2 linked regions of the Homo sapiens genome follow. The protein of the gene in region 1 purifies or fractionates together with the protein of each later gene. This does not show direct contact. Each region holds a gene or a part of one and is shown on either strand. Other genes may lie near its edges. The genes, in order: OR51V1 and ZMPSTE24.

What was found.
Region 2: the proteins of OR51V1 (region 1) and ZMPSTE24 purify together in Homo sapiens (affinity purification with mass spectrometry; one large-scale study listed by BioGRID and IntAct). This does not show direct contact.

Annotation. Positions count from the first base shown.
Region 1 is NC_000011.10:5,199,174-5,202,355, forward strand, and holds OR51V1 (olfactory receptor 51V1), read right to left. Parts: upstream 1,510-3,182; coding exon 562-1,509; downstream 1-561. UniProt on the Homo sapiens protein: Odorant receptor.
Region 2 is NC_000001.11:40,264,736-40,268,565, forward strand, and holds part of ZMPSTE24 (CAAX prenyl protease 1 homolog), read left to right. Parts: intron 1-3,050; coding exon 3,051-3,137; intron 3,138-3,683; coding exon 3,684-3,800; intron 3,801-3,830. UniProt on the Homo sapiens protein: Transmembrane metalloprotease whose catalytic activity is critical for processing lamin A/LMNA on the inner nuclear membrane and clearing clogged translocons on the endoplasmic reticulum.

The sequences.
Region 1 (3,182 bases):
TGTAAATGCAGTTGTTCAATTACACTACCATCATTTCAAGCGCACAGGAGCCATATATTCCACTTTAGCCATTTTATGGTATTTTATAGAACATCGCCATCAGTTTAGAAAAGTTCCCTTGGACAATTCTGGTCCATACAGATATCACAACATTCCTGTGAGTTGGCTATAGTCTCCATTTTGAAGGTTAATTAAGTAAACCTCAGAGAATGAAAGAAACTTCAAGTTTTCTACTTTGAAACTTGAAAACCTAGGTTTTTAATCCAGCTTTGTTTTACAGCAAAGGAAATGCTCAAAAGTACATTTCAGGCAAATAAACAATTTTTTCCTCTTTCTTAAATATGGTCAGACTGATAGAGTGACCTACATGTGTCCAGGCTGACACAATGGAACTTGTTTGTTGATTCTCTGACTATATTTAAATATTTTTTAAGGTCATTTGTCATGGACTCAGAGTAAATCTACAATTTTAATAATTTTTTCTTTTTTATGGCACTGATTTTTGTTTATTATTGTTGCTGCTTTTCTTTCTTTTTTTTAGGCAATACATCTCAATATCTCTCAATATCTTTTCAGAGAAAAGAGTCTAAGCATTCTGGTATGAATCTGTTGGGTCTTGACACTGTAGATGATGGGATTCATTAAAGGTGGGAAAAGGATGTAGATGTTGCCAATGAGAACGTGGGCCACGGGGGAAAGGTGCTTGCCAAAACGGTGCACCATTGTGAGGCTAATGATAGGGATGTAGAACACAAGGACAGCACAGATGTGGGAGATGCAGGTCTGAAATAATTTATGCCTCTCTTCCTGAGAGGCAACTGCCAGGACTGACTTAAGAATCAGGATGTAGGAGAAAAGGATGAGTATAGCATCCAACAACAGTATGCAAATAACCAGCATCAGGGCATAGTAACTATTGAATCGGATGTCTGAACAGGCTAAGCGGAGAAGATCCTGGTGCAGGCAGAAAGAGTGAGAAAGGATGTGGAAATGACAGTAATTAAAAAATTTCAGACAGATGATGGGGGGTGTAATAAAGAAAAAACTCCTACCTATTATAGTGAGCCCAATTTTGATAATTCTGGAATTAGTCAGGATGGAGGAATAACGTAGTGGATTGCAAATTGCAATGTACCGGTCAAAGGCCATAGTGAGGAGGACAGAGGACTCCATGAAGGACAGACCATGGATGAAATAGGACTGGGCAATGCAGGAATCCAAGCTGATCTCTCGAATGATCCCCCACAGGATCCCCAGCACTGTGTACACAGTGGACAGCCCCATGCACAGGTCAGTGAGGGCCAGCATGGACAGGAAGTAAAACATAGGCTGGTGCAGGCTTGGCTCAGTCCATATCACATGGAGAACCATGCAATTGCCCAAAAGCACCATGGCATAGATTGAGGAGAAGGGGATGGAAAGCCAGGGGTATTGCTGCTCCATGCCAGAAAATCCAGTGAGAAGAAAGGAAGAATTCGTGCTGGTGCTAGGGCTTACTGAAGTAATCATTCTGGAACTGAGAAACATGTGAGAGTATTTTTTCAAAGGAAATGTTTCAATTTCACCTGAATACAATGAAATTTCTAAGTAAATGAAATACCCTAAAACTTACTGACTTAAAAAAAACAGCTGAGAAATTCTGTTTCTTTGAGACATAGTATCCATTGCCTTTGAGAAAATGGTCTTCTTTTGATGTCATTTAAAAGTCATTATTTTTTCACTGTCTGGATGTGAACATATCCTTAGAAGCCATAAGCAAAAACAAATAAGGAAGAGATTAGTAAAAGGAGAAGGCTAGTTTTAAAAAAATACGTTGCTTAGACATTTTCCCAAGGATAGTGGTAAAAATTTTATACCAGTAAAGAGCCGAGGTTCTTGAAAAATTATTTTCTTCTCTCCAATTCATTAAACATTCGAAGTGAAGAGTAATCTTTGGGCTTTAAATATCATAAGTCTATTAAATAGTCACTTTTCCGTCATTTTCCATTTTGTGCCGTCTCCAAGTATATTTTTTCTCCAAATACTATTTAATGAAGATACTCCTGTTTTCTCCCCCTCCAGATGACGTAGCCAGCAATTACTTTTTCTTCATTGGTGATAAGCAGACAGGAATATTTATGCATGAGACCTTGGGTAAATGATTTCTCACTGGAGCTCTGGCCTCTTGAGATGTTCAACTCATTTGTGCCTTTGTGATGTAGAGAATTAGATTGAAGACACTGAGCCTTTGATAGCAGCTCAGTGCTTCCCATTCCTTTATTTATTCAGTTAATGAGCTGATTAACTATTTATTCAATATACATTTATTCAATGTATTGGCCAATTGTGTTTTCTTTCTTAGAACCTGCAGTTCTACAGATCACAAAGCCAGGCTCAAACAAGCAAGCTTATAATTTCAAAAGCCTCATGGTAGCAGAATCAATTGGCTTCTTCTTTACATTGTTTGCCTGCTTTAAGTTCCAGACCTGAGAATCATCATAAGTTTTTTTAAAGCTCTAATAATGTAAACAGATGTTCAAAAGTCCATACTTTCATGTTTGATTGAGTAACTTCGAGATGTTAAAGTAACTTCAGATTTGGGCTGCCCTTTATGTCCTACTTTTCAGCTTTGTCTTATTAGCCTCACAACACAGTTCCACAGACTTTCTTCTCAATGTACTCTCTATACTACACTGACGTCTTCTAGCAGTCTAACCATTGTTTTTCTTGCCCTGACTCCTTCTCAGCATTGAATAACTTAGCTCACTATTTTTAATACTTTTTTCTCCATAGAATGCTTGAAGTTTCTTCGTTTCTTGCAGAGGATTTTTCAGTCTTTTGAATACGTATCTTCTTTCATTTCTCTAAATCGAATTTCTCTTCTTTCGTAAAATTTTTCTCGAAATGTTCTATCTGCCTAAATTATTCATCATCTTTTCCTCAATTTCTTCCTACCCTTTTTAAAACGATCTTGCAACTCAACAATCACTTTTCAAGAAGTTTCTTAAGACAAATTTATCCATATATCTATTATTTTGGTATCATGTTTCAATTTTAAATAAAACTTATAATTTTGTATTTATTAGCTAAATATTTAACTAATATTTAAACTAAATATTTAACTAATATCTCTGTTACAAACTAAATTCTCAGTTCCTTAATGTGCAGACTATGTCAACTTTTTCTTATTATTTGAAACTAAC
Region 2 (3,830 bases), on another chromosome or scaffold:
TGAGTGTGGTGATGTGCACCTGCAGTTCTAGCTACTTGGAGGCTGAGGTGGGAGGGTTGCTGGAGCCCAGGAGATGGAGGCTGCAGTGAGCTGTGATCACACTGCTGTACCCCCGCCTGGTGACAGAGTGAGATCCTGTCTCAAAAAAAAAAAAAAAAAAAAAAAGAATGTAGTGAAATAATATATGTCAAAGCGCTGGAATTATTTTTTCTGGGATCATTAATTTTGCCATAGAACAACCCTGGGAGCATGCTTAGTGAAATTGTCAACATAGAGACATTGTACAGTTCACCATGCTTTGTTTTTCAGTCCCCAAAAGAAACTAAACATGCTTTGTTTTTCAGTCCCCAAAAGGTTTGCAGTATCAGTTTTCAAATGCATTTATAGATCATTCAGAATTCATATTAAAACTACCCTTGATGCTTATTTAAATACTGGACTTTTAATAATAGTTGCTGTGGCCTTTACTAAAAGCATTATAAGTCCTTAATTATACATTATTTATTAGTATTGGGAATTGGCTGAAAGAAATACCATCCCAGGTCAATTAGATCAACAACTACAGCATATGTCAGACAGTGGTACCAAAGCATGTCTTTTGGGAAAACAAGGTTTATGTCTAAGATTGAATTAGTTGTAGTAAAGTGGAAATACCTGGAGGTAGTGTTAGGGGAGCCTTTTGAAAAGCAATTTATTGGGGCTGAGTGCAGTAGCTCATGCCTGTAATCCCAGCACTTTGGGAGGCCACAGTGAGAGGACTGCTTGAGGCCAGCCTGGGCAACATAGTGAGACCCCATCTGTACAAAAAATTAAAATTAGCCAAGTATGGTGGTGCATACAGTCCTGGCTACTTGGGGGGCTGACATGGAAAGATCCTTTGAACCCAGGAGTTCAAAAATTCAGTAAGCTATGATCATAACACTGCTCCCTAGCCTGAGTGACAGAGTGAGACTCTGTCTCTTAAAAAAAGAAAACAATTTATTAAAGCAATGATTTTCAAACTTTAGTGTACATCAGGTTTACCTAGAAACTGCTGGGCCCCACTTCCAGCTTCTGATTTGGTACATCTGGGGTAGGGCCTGAGACTTTGCATTTCTAAGAAATTCCCAGATGCTGTTGCTGCTGTCCAGAGACCATATTTGAGACCCATGATATTAAACCAATCCAATGTACTGGTAACAGTCTAAAAGATGGATAGTTTAAAGTGTGGGTGAGATTGTGGGAAAACAGAAACACTGGAGTACTGCTGATGGGAGTGTAATTTGTTATAAACACTTTAGGAAATATCCTGATAATACCAAATAAAGTTGAAGTCCACCATGGATGGATCTAAGAAAATTTAGAATATAAAAAGCAAATCATAGACTGATAAGTATAATATGATGTCATTTATATACATTCTTTAAAAGCATACATAAATCACTATATTATTTGTAGATACATGTATGAAAATGGGAATTAGATTGGAAGGGTACCCATGAAATATGATAGTACCAAAACCCCTCAAACCATGAGGAACTATGTCTGAACCAGTGGGAATATTGTGCTTCTAGTCAAGGAATGTGATTGATCATTGTGTTCCTAAGCTGCTGTCCTACAGAGAGAAAAAATAAATTGATTCCTCTTGACAAATGAGTTCCACAAAGTTGTATGTGTTTTGGGCGGTAGAATTCTTAAACATGCATTCTTCTCAAATTTTGAGCTGCTTCCTAGCTCCTAATGTCCTGGTTATTTAGTGAATGTCTGTGTTCACTTTATCTGCCCAAGACCAAGACAAAGGGTGGTGCTGAGGAAGAGCCTTCTCCTGTGAAAGCCGGGCCCCTACCTCACCTCTTCCTGACCCAGCAAAGACACAGATAATCCCATTCTGTTCCCCAGTTTAGTAAGTGGACATGACTCTCCACTTCTGTGCTTTGTTCTGATGGAAAAGGACTATTTTCTTTCACAGAAAAGACAATTATGGAGCCATATTAATGTGGTTCAAATTCCATTTCTATCACTCATTAGCTGTTGGATTTCGAACAAGTTTTTTTTTTTTTTTTTTTTTTTTTTGAGACAGGGTCTCATTCTGTCACCCAGGCTGGAGTGCAGGCACGATCATGGCCCACTGCAGCCTCGACATCCCAGGCTCAAGCAATCCTTCTACCTCAGCTCCCCCGAGTAGCTGGGACCACAGAATCATGCCACCATAATTGGCTCATTTTTGTATTTCTTGTAGGGACAGGTTTCACCATGTTGTCCAGGCTGGTCTCGAATTCCTGAGCACAAGCAATCTGCCTGCCTTGGCCTCCCAAAGTGCTGGGATTACAGGCATATGCTACCATACCCAGCTGTTTAACCTTTCTAAGTTTAGTTTGTGATTTTGTTGTGGTCTTTTGACAAAAGGTTTTTTTTTGTTTTGTTTTAGAACAGCTTTATTGAGATAATTCATGTACCATACAATTCATATACCATACAATTCATCCATATATAGTGTACAGACAAAAATGTTATATTAACCACCTAAATTTAGTATCTCAATGGTTAGTACTCATCTAAATGCATAATTTATGCTAAATGTGAAATAGGTCTATTTTTTAAAAAAATATTTTATTTTGTTATTTTATTTTATTTTATTTTATTTTATTTTATTTTATTTTATTTTATTTGAGACAGGGTCTCAGTTTATTGCCTTGCTGGAGTGCAGTGTCACAATCACGGCTCACTGGAGCCTTGACTTCCCAGGCTCAGGCAATCCTGTCACCTCAGTCCCCCAAGTAGCTGGGTCTACAGGTACGCACTATCAGGCCCAGCTAATTTTTAAATTTTTTGTAGAGATGGGGTCTCAACTCACCTTGTTGCCCAGGCTGGTCTTGAATTCCTGGCCTCAAGCGATGCTTCTGTCTCAGTCTCCCAAAGTGCTGGGATTACAGGCATGAGCCACCGTACTGGCCTCTTTTGTTTTTTTAATAGAGATGATTATTTTGTCCTTTCTTTCTTTATACCATGCTTTCTCATATGATAGTTTCTAGTACTGTTCAACTGTGATCAAAGTATGCTTTGTTTTATAGCTTATTCTTCTCTTTGGAGGAATACCTTATCTCTGGAGACTTTCTGGACGGTTCTGTGGTTATGCTGGCTTTGGACCAGAATATGAGGTATGTGATTCATTAGCATGTATTTGTCATGGTATTTCTTTTAGCTTGGCAGGCTTTCCACTAAAGTTAATTTTTTGGCTTCTGCCAATGTTAAGATTTGCCTCTCTGTTTGCATAGTCCTTGGTTACCCATGCTGTATTGGCATAACATTAGTTACAATAACAAATCCCAGAATATCACAGGCTTATTTGCAATGGTTTATTTCTCAATCACGTAATAGTCCAGTGTGAGTATTTTTAGTTATCAGGTGACTTTCTTCCATGTGGTAAGCCAAGAATCCAGGCTCTTTATCTTAGGGATTTGTCTGTATGATTTAAGGTACCTTTCATATAGTGCCTGTGTAATAAAAAAGGAATTGTTTTGTTTCTCATTTACTTCTCTCAAAAGTAAACTTTTTTGAAGGCAGGGATGATATTTCAGACCTTATGTTATCCATAGAATCAAGCATATTGCTTGGGATGTAGTAAGTAAGTGCTCAGCAAATACTTGTTGATTTGTTTGCCAGTAGTTCATAAAAACTGGATTTTTGTTTTTTCTTTTGTTTAGATCACTCAGTCCCTGGTGTTTCTGCTGTTGGCTACACTTTTCAGTGCATTGACTGGTTTGCCATGGAGTCTTTATAATACTTTTGTGATAGAAGAAAAACATGGCTTCAATCAACAGGTATAATAAAGAATACAAATGTTCTCTTTT